Regions from separate parts of the Homo sapiens genome. Here region 2 is linked to region 1. A link means that fine-mapping ties the variant in region 1 to the expression of a gene that starts in the linked region. Tissue or cell type: whole blood. Region 1 holds a variant in brackets; the other region holds the start of a gene. All regions are shown on one strand. Distances are between the middles of the regions.

The links. PIP is the estimated chance that this variant, and not a neighbour inherited with it, causes the effect.
Region 2: it holds the start of GHDC, and the variant in region 1 is fine-mapped to the expression of GHDC in whole blood (INTERVAL, PIP 0.97).

Annotation. Positions count from the first base shown.
Region 1 is chr17:42,269,349-42,277,450 of GRCh38, reverse strand. STAT5B (signal transducer and activator of transcription 5B) reads left to right here and starts at 1,060. Exons shown (of 19, transcript NM_012448.4): 1 at 1,060-1,203. RefSeq lists a silencer at 818-1,427. The variant A/C (reference allele first, on the strand shown) is at 4,002.
Region 2 is chr17:42,189,491-42,197,586 of GRCh38, reverse strand. GHDC (GH3 domain containing) reads left to right here and starts at 3,093. Exons shown (of 10, transcript NM_032484.5): 1 at 3,093-3,194; 2 at 3,737-3,820; 3 at 3,993-4,270; 4 at 4,560-4,681; 5 at 4,845-5,346; 6 at 6,377-6,569; 7 at 6,684-6,755; 8 at 6,830-6,963; 9 at 7,317-7,402; 10 at 7,666-8,096. The coding sequence starts at 4,006. The coding sequence ends at 7,884. RefSeq lists enhancers at 2,951-3,180, 4,075-4,605.

The DNA of each region.
Region 1 (8,102 bases):
AAGAGCTGCCCAGGGAGGACTATGGGAGAACTTGCAGCTCTGGGCCATCTCTGGACATGAACGTTTTGCATACACACAGGGGAGCTCTGTGTGTCTGAGTGGGGGCGGGAGGGGTCCTTCTCTCTCTTTTGGCCCCTGCAGCTTGGCTTCTGGAGCTTTCCTATGTCTTGCTTTAGTGCTAGCCCTTGGAGGGTTGCCAGGGAAACCGCTGGCCAGCTCCGGGAGATAGACGTAGCAGAGGAAAGGAGAGTGGGTGACTCAGCCTGGCTTCCCACAACCGCAACCCCCTCCTCAGCACGTGGAAAGGATCTGGGGGACCCCCTTCCCCTGGATCCTACAGATGACCCTGTTTATTCTTTCTTCTCTAGAGAGAGCAGTCCCTCCCGCAGCTCTGACTGGTGGGAGCCAGCCAGATTTTCCCAGGAAGGGAACCGGCCCCAGGCGCCCCGTCCCCCGTAGGTTCACCCTGGAACTCGGACAGGTGAATTCGGCCTGGGCGAATGTGAATTCCTGCCGTGCCCATGCAGGCGGCAGGAGCCCTGGCTGAGACGCCCTCCCGGGGGCAAACCCAGGATAATTATTGATCGGGGCCCCTGTGGACTTCTGACCTCGGCCTCGGCGGGAGAGGACCCGGAACGCGGGCCTGGGCTCCCAGGGAGAGAGGTGGGCGGGCCGCGGAGGGGGCCAACCAAAACGACCACGACAGTGCGCCCTAGCCCTGCTAGTGGTGGTCGACCCAACCCAAACAAAGCAGCATGTGCTTGCGGTGCGGCGTCGGCTAGGGAGCCGAGCCGGGAAGACACCCCACCGCCGCAGAAAGGGGGTGCGCGCGGCGCCGGCACCGGCACCGCCGAGCGCGCCGCCACCTCGGGTGTGCCGAGGGGGTCCGGGTCCTTCAAGGGCGGTCGCGGAGGGGGCGCGAGGGACAGCGGGCTAGCGAGCGCGCGCCGGGCGGAACCAGGAAGCGGGGCGCGCTCCGGGTTGCCAGCGGCGCGCGTCCCTGGGCCTCCGCGCGTGAGCGGCGCGCGCGCCCCCGCGGGCCCCGGCGGGAGGAGAGTCGGCGGCCGGAGCCGTCACCCCGGGCGGGGACCCAGCGCAGGCAACTCCGCGCGGCGGCCCGGCCGAGGGAGGGAGCGAGCGGGCGGGCGGGCAAGCCAGACAGCTGGGCCGGAGCAGCCGCGGGCGCCCGAGGGGCCGAGCGAGGTAGGAGCTGCGGGGCGAGCCCTGGGCCCGGGGCCGGGGGAGCCAGGCCGGGGAGCCAGCCCGGGCGGGGCCCGCGCTCCAGCCGCTCAGCCGCCCGTCAGGGCCGCGCCGCCGCCATCACTCCCGGGCCGCGGTGGTTGCGCGCTGGGCGAGGGGCGCGCGCGGGGAGAGGGGGTCCGGGTTGGCTGCCGGGGAGGCTGAGGGCAATGCGGGGTGCGCGAGGGGGACTTGCGAACGCCGCGGCGCCGCGGGGGGCGTGCGCTTTAAAGGCTGCGTGCGCGTGTGCTGAGTGGGTGTGTGGGGACCCCGCGCCGACCCCATAGGAGCTCAGGGGGCTGCTGTCAGCCGCCTCACACCTTCACGTTGCAATTCCGAATATCCCCAGCCGTCTTCCTTGCTTTAACTTCTTTCTTTCAAAAGAGGTTCCCGGGACTCCGGGGATGGGATGAGCCTGCGGGGGTGCCTGGTGCGGTGGGGGGTATTAGCAAAGCTTCAAGAAACAGGGCCTTATAAGGAATCAAGACAACAAATACGAACGTTTCGATAAGACTCTGGGGGGCGGGATCCCACATCAGGACCCGCCAGGCCTGGGCTCGTGCGTGTGGCCGTGGGATGCAGTGTGCTTTTTCTTTCTAGTCAGGGATAAAGGGTTAAAAGTGCTCCTGGTGTCGGGGGGTAGATATGGAGAGTCGGAAGGGGAGTTGTATCACAAAAGCTGGTCTGAGGCTAAAGGAATCTGGCAAGATGGTCGGGGTGAACAAAGAGGAAAGAACTCACACGGAGCAAGAGGCGGTTGCAAACACTTGTAGCCAGCAGTGATGGAAAAGCCAAAGAAGAAAACCAAGTGTCAGCTTTTAGAAAGACGGGATTAATGAAAAGCACAAGAATTTTAAAGACTAAAAGAGATACCGATTCTCTCTTTGCCAAAGAGCCAGAGTCAGTTCTTTTCTTCTTGGTCCCTGTGATCCCGCCATACCTCGTATCAAATAAATAGTGCCAAAAGTGGGTCAAAGAATGTTAGAGCTGGAAAGGAACCCAGCGATGATGCCATTCTTTTATTGTACAAATGAGGAAACTGAGGCCCAGATAGGTGGAGTAAGTGGCCTGCTCAGGTGACACGGCTGTTTGTTGAGTATCCAGGGATTGAAACTTCAAGGACTCTGAGATTCGTGCTCTTCCCAAAGCATCGTGCAGTATACAGATCTTTGCCTAGATACAATTCCATACATTTTCTCTGCAGTGTCCTCAGGGAATGCCCTTTGAAAGGGCCAGCGTGACACTGAATATCATACTTGGGCTTATGTCATTTTTTTCAGTCTTCAAGTGGTGTTTATGGTCTGCTTGGATCTTAGGTTTCCAAAGCTGTTGGATAGCCGCCTGGGCCATAATAAGCTTTCAGCTGTTGGGTCTACATTATTTCAAATAATTTTGTTATCTTTCAATTAAGGTAATAGAACTGTGCCTCTCTCCCCAACATTCTATTGTTGTCCATTTGCTTATGTTATATTGCGTTATGTTCATTGCCTGTGAGTTCCTAGGTGAGGATGTATTTTATTGAGTGTGCCTTTCATGTTTTAAAATTTCATTTTGTAACACTGTAAATATTGGAGTGGTTCTGATCACTTCAAATGGGGAGAATCTTATTGATTGATTTTATTTTAAGGCTTTGGGTTGTTTTGTTTATTCATTTGGGTACCAGTTTCCATCTCATGGAAGATCACAGTTGTTAGAATGGACATGGCTAAATAAGAGAAGGGGCTGCTGATTTTAAGAAAAACTTCCTATGTGACAATTTGTGGTATCTGTTACGTTTAATTCAAACAAGTCCACACCTTGGGTCAGGTAAGCGCGTTATCTAGGAGATGACTTGTTTGCTACTGTAGCCTCTGGAAGATGAAATTTCAAGCTCCAGATTGAGACACAGGGAAGGAATGGAGAGGTTTTTTTTTTTTTTTTTTTTTTTTTTGTAAAGCAAACCATCAGAAAAAAAAAGTTGATTTCTATCACCAGTAGTTTGGTTATTGCATAACTTGAAGCTAAACTCTGCACAAAATAATCTTTGCTATATACCCAACTAGGTAAACTATCCCACCTTCTCATCAGTTCTCACCTTTTCGGTGCTTGTATTTTTTGCCCACGGGATATTAATATGGATTGTGTTCAGAAATTTAAGGTGTGTACTTCATAGTATGTATGATTGTAGGAGAAAAATGTGCTATCATCGTTTGGAGTGTTACAACATAAATATTTTGGTCAACACTTCCTATCCTGCTCTGACTTTTCATCTCATCTCCATTTTCTTCCTCTCTTGATTGTTTTTATGTCATTTACATATGTAAAAGCCACATCAAGACTAAAGTTGCCATTTATTACTTTTTGATACTTAAGTCGAGTTTTTTCAAATCATAGTATTGTTAGTATTCAAATTGTCTGTAATTTTTGTTAGGCTTATATATTATGAATCCATTTGTTGTGGTTTATTTGGCTTGTTGTTATGTAGGTAGGTGACACAGGTAGTCTTATTGTAAAAGGAAGACGTTATAGATAGGTAAATAACATGCTCAAGATTAGATGCAGGTTACAGGTGGAATCGAAGGAAGCCTAACTATTTTCGTGCCCTACAAAAATGTCTGTATCTCATAAAGTTATTCACAGATTTCTGGACATTCTATCTGTGACACATTTTTTCCCTTTCTGTTAAGAGTGCAGATTACTGCATTATTCCTACAAAAGGAAGCAAAATAACCCTAGTTTGTATGATTTTTCTGATAATTTGAAACTTATTCGTTTAAAAAGCT[A/C]TCTGGCAATTCCAGGTTACTGGACTCTTGAGAAGAATATCCTTTTATTTTGATACTATAAAATATCAAAGTATCAAAATACTTTAACTGTGCAACTTAATAAAAATAATGCTTCAAAGTTAGCTCTGCACTATCGCTGTCCTCAAATGTGTGGTATTTAAAGGAAGAAAATGTTTTTAATTCTGAGCTTTGTGAATAGAACTCTTCTAAAATCAGAAGTTTTTTTTTTTCTCCTGCAGTGTTGGAAACACAACAGTTTTATGCTTATTTCTGGGAATAAGAAAGTCAAACTTAACAATCTAGTTTCCATTGATCAGACAGTTTTTGTACTTAAATTTAAGTTCTAAGCATCAGAGTGATAAATACTTTTTAAAATTGTATTCACTGTTAATTATAGTGGCCTTATTTGAAGTAAAATCTTGACATTGGGTGTTTTATTAATGATGATCCTCTGCTACTGAAAAGCCTATGTCAGTTTGGAGAAGATTTTGCACATCTAAATCTATGCTGTTTTTACTAATCAAAAGAGAAGAGCAATTTACAGGTGTTAGATTTTTAGTTGGTTGAATGAGACCCTCACTTTTGATGGTTTCAGAGTTGAAGTGACGTTTTATTACTTTTGTTAGTTTGGGTCACACCCATCACTTCCTTGGAAGGTATCTTTGAGGTTTGGTTTCCTTTTTTTTTAAATGGTAATATTGGGGTGGGGGTGCTTCCTGTTTGTATTTTCAAAATTAGGTCCACATGTTAACCTTCTTGTAGTGTCACATTTTTATTTTAAACTTATACAGACAAACATCAGATGCCATGTGGTTTGTCTCTGACCCTTTGCGCTACTTCATGACAGCTTTACTGAGTGAAGCCTGAATACCCAATCGGGAAGGCAAGATGTTCTTGTCTTTTCCCAACTCTCTTCAAAGTTTAACAGCCTTGGAAGGAGTCTTAGAACAGCAACAAAAGCACAATTTACAGAAAAATGGAGGTGCTGCTATCTGTTTCCTCGCAGGTACTTGGAAAATGTATAGCACTAAGATAGAGTTGAAACATGTTATGTAGAGCCTTGAATGTCGGTGCTTCAAAGAGGAGTTGCTCTGGGTTTACATGATACAGAACCCCATGGTTTATATTAAGTAGTAATGATAGCCGTTTTTCTGGACTCGCTTAAAAGCCATACACAGTGTCATGGAAAAGAGTTAAGAACAAGGTGAAATTCAGGGTATGGTATTAGAGCTCAGGAGGAATCACCTTCAGCCTTAAAACTCTTCCTTTACTCTCCTGGATCACTTAAGTGATAGGTCACTTTTAATATAAATGTTGCAGGATGAGTTAAGTGGAGCCTTGAGAAATATGTGTAGATTGTTTCAGTGATTAAAGCAAGTGTTCTTTTCCTGGCCTTTAACTCGCTTTATGCTAAGAAGTGTAATAACTAAATAGACTCCTAATTGAATTGACATTCAGATGTGTTTGCAGTTTAGGGGGAGTTTACCTCTTCTAAATTTTCATTTGGATCCCATTACTAAAAGCAGTATTGCATTAGCATGGTGCACAATTATGTACAATTCAATTTGCAAATGAAGTTAATACTTGGAGTATCTTGACTTCCTATTCCCCTGCTGCCCCAATATTCAAGAAAGGAGAAGTTATAATTTGTCACATACAAGATGGTTTCTTCTTTAGGTTTATTCTTAATAACTATGTCCATTTTCACATGGATGACACCACTGAGATGATGAATACCTGTATTGATTGATTGATGAAGAACATTTATCTTTTTCTACCTACTTTTGGAAGCTAGCTTGCAAAATCTACTGCAACATTCACTCTTCATGTATCCTTCTATTACCTTTGGTACCCTGAATAACCTTTTAAAAATTTTTGTACTTTTCTAATATGAAGAGAAGTAGCTTCATATTCTATGCTAGTTTTCTGAGGTGCTTGTGCTGACTCATTTTTTAAATTATACTAAGATATAGAGCATGGTTTGAGAGCAGTAATGAGATTCTCAGAAAATATGAAAACTTTCCTTTCTGACTAGTTAGAGAAAGGTTGGGGAAGACAAGGGGAAATACATCAATGAGCCAATCAATTATTGTTATTTGTTGGGATTAATTTGGTGACTAATATTTTTAATGCCCATCAGGCTACTAAATGTGAATTTGGCTTTACCCTGTAATGATAACAGGACAAACCCAACGGGTTTCTAACATTGCTTGTTTTCCCCTGGTAGGGGATTTCTTTGCATATGGGAAATCAGGCCGAAGTTGCCAGTAACAGCCACATCCATGATTTGTATTAAAAATAACTATTCATCATTCTGGGCTAGAGCTCTGCTTACCATGGCTCACCTGGGAAGATATTCTGATTATGTATCTAATCATTATGATGCCACCTTTCGAGAGGTGAGCAGACAATTAACAAGTCCTTCAAATTATGTTCAAAACCCAGAGTTTGAGAAAATGTTCCAACGCCTTCAAGTGTGAAGATAATAAAAACATTACCTAATGCTTACCGTTCACTGACAGTGTGCTGGGCAGACATTGTTTTCAGCTCTGGCCTTGTGTTAACTCGTGATTCTCAGAGGAGTGGGTATTATTCCCAGATGGAAGATGAAGAAATGGCCACAGAGAAGTTAAGTAATTTGTCCAAGGTCACATTACTGTTCTTGGCGGGGCTGATTCCAGAGACTGCATCCCTAACTAGTGTACAGCAAAAGCGAGCTGGCCACTGCCACTTTGTTATAAGACATTTTGTTTCTTTGAGGCTTGTATTTCTTTGTGTTCCCAAATGGAGTCTCGTTGGTTTTTGAATAGAAAATATTTTTATATGTTTAGGATTTTTTTAAATGTTGATGAAGATGGTGATAAATATTTTTCCAATTAAAGTATATACTTCTGGTGGAAATTATATTAAAGAAGAGAAAGTCTTAATTTTTATTATAAGTTGTCTTTCATTCTTCTTCCCCTAGCATTACCGTGTACATCATAGAAGAAGAGCTATAAGCTGTCTCCTTGGCCTCTGTTTACAAACAAAGGGATCATTTGTGCCAATGTAGTGGGTTTGTGTTGACATGCACGTCTGTACTGAGAACTCAACAATCCCACTCATTTTATTTACAACTTTATTTTGCGGGGATTTCTGTCCTATTCTTGTTGCATTAAAGCTTTTTAGAGCATTAGTCATGATTTCTGAGACAGATTTAAGAATTTTACTTATTTGGGCTAATTTATTATTATTATTTCTTGAGACAGAGCCTCGCTCTGTCACCCAGGCTGGAATGCAGTGGCGCGATCTTGGCTCACTGCAACCTCCGTCTCCTGGGTTCAAGAGATTCTCCTGCCCAGCCTCCGGAGTAGCTAGGACTACAGGCATGTGCCACCATGCCCAGCTAATTTTTGTATTTTTAGTAGAGACGGGGTTTTGACATGTTGGCCAGGCTGGTCTCGAACTCCTGACCTCAGGTGATCCTCCTGCCTTGGCCTTCCGAAGTGCTGGGATTACAGGCATAAGCCACCATGCCCAGCCTATTTGGGCGAATTTTTAAGGCAACTGAACTATTGTATGTCTAGAGCTCTGCAAAGGCCATTAGAAAATAGTCTCAGATTTTTTTTTTTTTTTCATTTATGATGCTTACTTTCTCTCAGCACTTTTCCTTGGGAGTGGATTGTGAAGTTAAGTCTTGGAAACAGAATTCACAACCCTAAAGCGTAGTGCTTTAACTTTGGGAGATCAAGTCACAGACAAGAAGAACTTCAATTCCCTGTGCAGAGTATAAACTTGTTCAAATAAACAGAGGATGTTAGCTTCCAGGATTGTCAACTGTCACCTTTGACCAGGGTTGAATTTTCTTTGAATGTTGACAGAAGTTACAATGTCAGTGGAAAAAGCTTAATGTGAGGTATCTATAACTCAGAATTTCCTTATGTTTGTGTCAGTGAGATCCTACAATTAAAGCTGCTTCTTTTTTTCTATGTCTGATGAGTTTTAAAAGCCTTCACTGGGGTTTTCCAGCCTTTAGGTGAGAGTAAGTTAAAAAGTTTGTGAGAAACTATTTTTTGTTGTCTAAAATTCAGAGCCTAGGTCGGGCCCAGTGGCTCACGCCTG
Region 2 (8,096 bases), 80 kb after region 1:
TCCAGCCTGGGTGACAGAGCGAGGAAAAAGAAAAGAAGCCAAGTACAAAAGACCGCATATTATATGATGCCATTTATAGGAAATGTCTAGGATAGGCAAATCTATGGAGACAGAAAGTAAATTTGAGGTTGCCTAGAGGCTGGGAAGGAGTTTGGAGGTAATAGTGAAAGGATACAGGGTTTGGGGGTTTTTTTGTTTTGTTTTTTTTTTTGTTTGTTTTTCTTGAGACAGAGTCTCGCTCTGTCACCCAGACTGGAGTGCAGTGGCGCCATCTCGGCTCACTACAACCACTGCCTCCCAGTTTCAAGCGATTCTCCCACCTCAGCCTCCCAAGTAGCTGGGATTATAGGCGCCGGCCACCAGACCCTGCTAATTTTTGTATTTTTAGTAGAGACAGTGTTTTGCCATGTTGGCCAGGCTGGTCTTGAACTCCTGACTTCAGGTGATCCACCTGCCTTGGCCTCCCAAAGTGCTGGGATTATAGGTGTGAGCCACCACGCCCAGCCTGAGTTTGGGGTTTTTTATTTTATTTTATTTTATTTTATTTTATTTTATTTTATTTTATTTTATTTAACGAATTGGGCAGTCTCCTGAGGCACAGTAGGCTCAGAGAGACTCTGCAGGGTTTGTTTTTGAGGTAAGGAAAATGTTATTATCTGTGGTGTTGGTTGCACATATCTCTGGATATACTAGATCTTGAATTGTACACTAAATGGGTGATTTGTATGGTGTGTGAATTATATCTAATAAAGCTGTTACTGGGCCAGGTCTAGTGGCTTACACCTGTAATTCCAGCACTTTGGAAGGCCAAGGTAGGAGGATCGCTGAGACCGGGAGTTCCAGACCAGTCTGGGCAACATAGTAAGACCCCCTGTCTCTACAAAAAAAAAAAAAAAATGTTTTTAATTAGCTGGGTGTGGTGGCACATGCCTGTAGTCCTAGCCACTCAGAGGCTGGGGTAGGAGGATTGCTTGATCCCCGGAGTTCAAGGTTGCAATGAGCTGTGACCAGGCCACTGAACTCCAGCCTGGACAACAGAGCAAGACCCTGTCTTTAAATAAATAATAAAAGCAAATGCAAGATCTCAGCGAGAAAAAACGTGAAAGTGAGGTGAGTTAGCCAGAGTGAGAACAGACCTGTTGAAAGAAGCTCAGCTGTGAAGGGAAGAGAGGTGCTCAGCAAGTAGTAGCTCTCTTCTCAAAGGTATCCAGAGGCAAGTAAGGGGAGAAAGGGAGTGGTTTTAGTGTTTTGAGAGCCTAGGTCAAGAACACACCAGCCTGGGCAACATAGGGAGCTCTCTCGTCTCTACAAAAAATAAAATTAGTTGAGCGTAGTGGTGCGTACCTGTAGTTCCAGTCCCTTGGGAGGCTGAGACAGGAGGATCTCTTGAGCCCAGGAGGTTGAGGTTGCAGTGAGCTATGATCGCACCACTGCACTCCAGCCTGGGCAATAGATCAAGACCCTGTCTCAAAAACAAAAAACAAAAAAAGAGAAGTTTGTAATTTTCCTTGGGATAAAGGCAACAGGCTAACACAGATGGTCACCCAGTAACCAGGTAAAGTTAAGATAAACTATATGTGACTGGCTGGGTGCAGTGGCTCAGGCCTGTAATCCCAGCACTTTGGGAGGCCGAGGCAGGTGGATCACTTGAGGTCAGGAGTTTGAGACCAGCCTGGCCAACATGGTGACATGGTGAAACCCCGTCTCTACTAAAAATACAAAAAATTAGCTGGGTGTGGTGATGCGTGCCTGTAATCCCAGCTACTCGGGAGGCTGAGGCAGGAGAATTGCTTGAATCTGGGAGGCGGAGGTTGCAGTGAGCTAAGATCGTGCCATTGCACTCCAGCCTGGGCAACAAGAATAGAACTCTGCCAAAAAAACAAAAAAAAAGAAGTTTGTAATTTTCCTTGGGATAAAGCCAGCAAGCTAACACAGATGTTCACCTAATAACCATGTAAAGTTAAGATAAACTATGTGACTGGCTGGGTGTGGTGGCTCACACCTGTAATCCCAGCACTTTGGGAGGCCAAGGAGGGTAGATCACTTGAGGTCAAGAGTTTGAGACCAGCCTGGCCAACATGGTGAAACCCCATCTCTACTGAAAATACAAAAATTAGCTGGGCGTGGTGGCACACACCTGTAATCCCAGCTGCTTGGGAGGCTGGGGCAGCAGAATCGCTTGAACCTGGGAAGTGGAGGTTGCAGTGAGCTGAGATTGTGCCACTGCACTCCAGCCTGGGCAACAGAGCAAGACTGTGTCTCAAAAAAAAAAAAAAAAAAAAAAGATAAACTATATGTGACAAGTCCTCTTACTTGAGGACTCGTTATTGTTTATCTTGAAAACGTGTATGTAATGGGTTGTATGCGCTTGGCTATACAAAAAAGTAAGATTTCCTCCCTTCTTTGCAAGCTCTTAGCAGATCACCTGTCATGTACATCACATTGTGGTTGAATGCTTATTCAATAATAAAATTGTTTTCTTTCTCAACTACCTTGAGGGAGAGGATGGGGTTTTTTTTGTTGTTGTTTTTGTTTTGTTTGTTTTTGAGACGGAGTTTCGCTCATTGCCCAGGCTGGAGTACAATGGCGCAATCTCAGCTCACTGCAACCTCCGCCTCCCAAGTTCAAGTGATTCTTCTGCCTCAGCCTCCCAAGTAGCTGGGATTACAGGCATGTGCCACCACATCTGGCTAATTTTGTATTTTTAGTAGAGATGGGGTTTCACCATGTTGGTCAGGCTGGTGTCAAACTCCTGACCTCAGATGATCCACCCGCCTCAGCCTCCCAAAGTGTTGGGAATACAGGCGTGAGCCACCGCGCCCAGCTGAGTTGGGGTTTTAAGAGTTCTTAAGCTTGCCCCTCTCCCAGCTCAAGTGGCTTAATGGCGTTCTTTCCCACACACACCTTTCTGTTCCTTCACCTGCGCAAGTTTGAGGACCATGCTAGTCTGGTCCTAACTGCCCCAACTGCCAGCCTGGGCTAGCACCCGACATGAAGTCCTGTAGGCGACCTGCCCCTTTAAGAGCACCCCCCTCCTTCAGCTCCTCCCTCAGGCCTGGTGGCCGGATTTCCCAGTTGGGGCCCAGCCTTTTAAAGCCATCGCTCCTTCTTTCTGGCCGGATGTGTGCTGAGACCCAGAGTCACCCAGGGGTCTCCGTCACGTGCCAGGAGTAGGCAGAAGTGGGCTGTGACAGGTGCATGTGGGCATGGACCCCACAGCCTGGGGCTCAGGAGGGACAAGGAGCTGGGACAGGGTGGATCCCGAGAGAAAGCAAAGCCACTCGGGAGTGGGCAAGAGATATCGTTACGCAGCTGCTGTGTGCCCGACCGACCCTGTCCGAAACCCTTCCTGTACCTTCCCTTCCTCTTCCTTCTTTTCTCCCTTTTTTTTCTTTTCTTTTTTTTTTTGACAGGGTCTCACTCTGTTGCCCAAGCTGGGGTGCAGTGGCACGATCTTGGCTCACTGTAGCCTTGACATCCTGGGCTCAAGGGATCCTCCCATCTCAGCCTCCCAAGTAGCTGCGACTATGGGTGTGACACCACGCTGGGCTAGTTTTTCAATTTTTTGTAGAGATGGAGTCTCCCTATGTTGCTCAGGCCGGTTGCAAACTCCTGGGCTCAAGTGATTCTCCTGCCTCAGCCTCCCAAAGTGCTGGGATTACAGATGATAGCCACCTCACCCGGCCCACCCCTACCTTCTGAAAGAGGCATTCTTATTCTTATTCCCATTTTGCAGATCAGGAAACAGAGCTCAGTGCAGCCCACTAAATTGCTCAGGGCCCTACAGCTAACAAGCGGCAGAGGCAGGATCTGCACTCAGGTCAGTGGGACTCCAAAGCTTTGATAGTCTCTCCTTTGCATCACCTGCCCCACAGGGTCCTGCCTTCTTCCCAATTTCATTTTTCCTCGGTTTTCCTGTATGCAGTAGAGCGTGGGAGGAGAAATGGATAATTGCTGCATGCCCCCATATCTCGGTTCCTTCCTCTTCCCAGGAGCTGCTTGGAGATGCTGCTGTGGCCACTGCTGCTGCTGCTGCTGCTGCTGCCAACATTGGCCCTGCTCAGGCAGCAGCGGTCCCAGGATGCCAGGCTGTCCTGGCTTGCTGGCCTCCAGCACCGAGTGGCATGGGGGGCCCTGGTCTGGGCAGCCACCTGGCAGCGGCGGAGGCTGGAGCAGAGCACGCTCCATGTGCACCAGAGCCAGCAGCAGGCCCTGAGGTGGTGTCTACAGGGAGCCCAGCGCCCCCACTGTTCCCTCAGAAGGAGCACAGGTGTGTTTCCCAGGGTCTGGGGAGGTGACCCAAAGAGAAAGAAACCCCACAGGACCGTCAGATTCCAGAGCCTGATGGCCCCCTTACCTCCTCCACTGCCAACGGAGTGGCCTGACCCAGAGACCCAGGACTGGCTTTCTTGTCCAAGATGAATTTCCCATGCTGGGTCCTTACATCCTCTCTACCCCAGGCCTATTCTCGGTTCCTCCCTCAAGGGTCTCACCAGTCTTGCCTGAAACTCTTGGGAAACTGGCTTCCTGAGGCGTTTCTGTTGTCATTGGGGCTATAGACATAAGCACCTTCCGGAATCATCTCCCTCTGACCAAGGCCAGCCAGACCCAGCAGGAAGACAGTGGAGAGCAGCCACTGCCCCCGACCTCAAACCAGGACCTTGGGGAGGCCTCTCTGCAGGTAATCTAGGATGGCCAGAGCCCAGTCCTGGCCACAGCCCAGTCCCACCAGAGACCTCTGACTTGCAGCCAAACCCTCCAGTCATGGTGGGCAAAGAACCCCCAAATGGGGGCTCTGGGTCTGGCTCTGACACCAGACCAACATTCTCTCTTTCCTCCTCCAGGCCACCTTGCTGGGTCTGGCAGCCCTAAACAAGGCCTACCCAGAAGTGCTGGCTCAGGGACGCACTGCCCGTGTGACGCTTACATCCCCTTGGCCCCGACCCCTGCCTTGGCCTGGGAATACCCTGGGCCAGGTGGGCACCCCTGGAACCAAGGACCCTAGGGCCCTGCTGCTGGACGCACTGAGGTCCCCAGGGCTGAGGGCACTGGAGGCTGGGACGGCTGTCGAACTTCTGGATGTTTTCTTGGGCCTGGAGACTGATGGTGAAGAGCTAGCTGGGGCGATAGCTGCCGGGAACCCTGGAGCGCCTCTCCGTGAACGGGCAGCTGAGCTCCGGGAGGCCCTAGAGCAGGGGCCACGGGGACTGGCCCTTCGGCTCTGGCCAAAGCTGCAGGTGGTGGTGACTCTGGATGCAGGAGGCCAGGCCGAGGCTGTGGCTGCCCTCGGGGCCTTGTGGTGCCAAGGACTAGCCTTCTTCTCTCCTGCTTATGCTGCCTCGGGAGGTCAGTGGGACTCAAGGGCAGTGAGGTGGGGGCAACGGTCAGTGGTCACATGACAAGCAGCCATGCATTGGGCCCTACATAATCATCTCATTTAATCCTCCCCAACAAGCTGCATGCTAGGGCCAGCAGCCTCCTTTTACAAGTGAAGAAATTCAGGCTCTCTAGGTTAAGAGTCTTGTAGCTGGGTGCAGTGGCTCACGCCTGTAATCCCAGCACTTTGGGAGGCCAAGGTGGATGGATCGTTGAGGTCAGGAGTTCCAGACCAGCCTGGCCAACATGGCGAAACCCCATCTCTACTAAAAATACAAAAACTAGCGGAGTATGGTGGTGCACGCCTATAATCCCAGCTACCTGGGAGGCTGAGGCGGGAGGATTGCTTAAACCTTGGAGGCAGAAATTATAGTGAGCTGAGATCGCGCCATTGCACTCCAGCCTGGGTGACAGAGCAAGACCCTGTCTCAAAAAAAAAAAAAAAAAAAAAAGGCCGGGGCAGTGGCTCACGGGTGTAATCCCAGCACTTTGGGAGAGGCTGAGGTGGGTGGATCACCTGAAGTTAGGAGTTTAAGACCAGCCTGGCCAATGTGGTGAAACCCTGTCTCTACTAAAAATACAAAAATTAGCCAGGTGTGGTGGCAGGCGCCTGTAATCTCAGCTACTCAGGAGGCTCAGGCAGGAGAATCACTTGAACCCAGGAATCACTGAATCACTGAGCCGAGATCGCACCACTGCACTCCAGCCTAGGTGACAGAGCGAGACTCTGTCTCAAAAAAAAAAAGAGTCTTGCACAAATTCATGTGGCACCAGGATTCACTCCCAAGTCTGCCCCCTCCAGGACCACAGCACTCTGCCTCTTTCCAGTGAGGGCCTAAGAGGCAGCCCGCTGAGGCTGGGGGAGCCAGGAAGGATGTGGTGGAAGGGCAGCAGGAGGATCAGGTGCTCAGAGGATCAGGCCTGGGATCCAGGAGGGGCTATTGCCTGGCAGAAAGCGATGGCACCAGCAGACGCTGAGGAGGCTGCTTTGCTTTCACAGGGGTGCTGGGCCTAAACCTACAGCCAGAGCAGCCCCATGGGCTCTACCTTCTGCCCCCTGGGGCCCCCTTTATCGAGCTGCTCCCAGTCAAGGAAGGCACCCAGGAGGAAGCTGCCTCCACCCTCCTTTTGGCCGAGGCCCAGCAGGGCAAGGAGTATGAGCTGGTGCTGACGGACCGCGCCAGCCTCACCAGGTGATCAGCTGCACAGCCCCTGCTACCTGGGGCCCTATGGGACCGTGCTGGGGGCCTGGGGCATGAGCTCAGAAGACCTTGGGCCCGACCTCACTCCCACTTGCACCCCATCAGGTGCCGCCTGGGTGATGTGGTGCGAGTGGTTGGTGCCTACAATCAGTGTCCAGTCGTCAGGTTCATCTGCAGGTAGGTGACCCCGGGGAGCTGAAGGGCCATCCTTGTGTCCTGGGCTCCACTGCCTCTCCCTTCCTCCTCTTCAGGCTGGACCAGACCCTGAGTGTGCGAGGGGAAGATATTGGTGAAGACCTGTTCTCTGAGGCCCTGGGCCGGGCAGTGGGGCAGTGGGCGGGGGCCAAGCTGCTGGACCATGGCTGTGTGGAGAGCAGCATTCTGGGTGAGCCTCCCCACCGGCTCCTGCCTACCATCCTTGAGCTACCCTTCAACTCCTACCTCCCCTGCCAGGGGACTGCTAGGAAAGAGATAAGCCTCCTTTACTACTCCTACAAAAGTCCTTCTCTGCATCTAACTCTCATCCATCCTGCTGCAGTCTCTACCCATTTTCTTTCCTGATCTGTCTCCTATTTAGGATCAAGCTCTAGGTTCCTCTCCATTTACCCCACTCCCCACCAAGAAACTCTTTTTTCCCTATGAATCTCAGAGTGGGGAAGAACAGATAGGGCAGAGGACACTAGACTTGGCAGCTGCCCATTCACCGGAAGTATGTGTGCACATGGGGTCTATTCACAGATTCCTCTGCGGGCTCTGCTCCCCACTACGAGGTGTTTGTGGCGCTGAGGGGGCTGAGGAATCTGTCAGAGGAAAATCGAGACAAGGTAAAGGAGACGAGGACAGGGTCTGACTGTAGACCCCTTCACTCTGCACACTCCCAGGGTGCCATGGAGATCAGGGCTGATGGGAAGGAGAGGGGTGGCGGAGGAGAAGCTCCCTGGGGCTCTGGGAGGGGAGGGCTAAGTCCCACAGACACACACCTGTCCACACAAAACTTCTAAACACATGTAGCCTGGGCACAGCCACACACGCCTCGTGTGCACACTCACAGTCACACACCAGCTCACTCAGGCTGTTCTGTTCCCAGCTGGACCACTGCCTTCAGGAAGCCTCTCCCCGCTACAAGTCCCTGCGGTTCTGGGGCAGCGTGGGCCCTGCCAGAGTCCACCTGGTGGGGCAGGGAGCCTTCCGAGCACTCCGGGCAGCCCTCGCTGCCTGCCCCTCCTCCCCCTTCCCCCCTGCGATGCCCCGGGTCCTTCGGCACAGGCACCTGGCCCAGTGTCTGCAGGAGAGGGTGGTGTCCTGAGTCAAGTCCTGCCCCACCGCCCAGCTCCCCCCAGAGGCCACCTCGCCCCTCCCTCTGGGACCTCTCCGGATGGGGAGTCCTTGGCCAGGGTCTCTGACTCTGTGTCACCTGACATTTGCCCATGAGAGCCGCTGGGCCTTAGAGAGGCCTTGGCCCAGCTGACCGGTTCTGAAGTATGGGCCTCCGGGGTTAGCAGATGCCAGCAGTGCCTG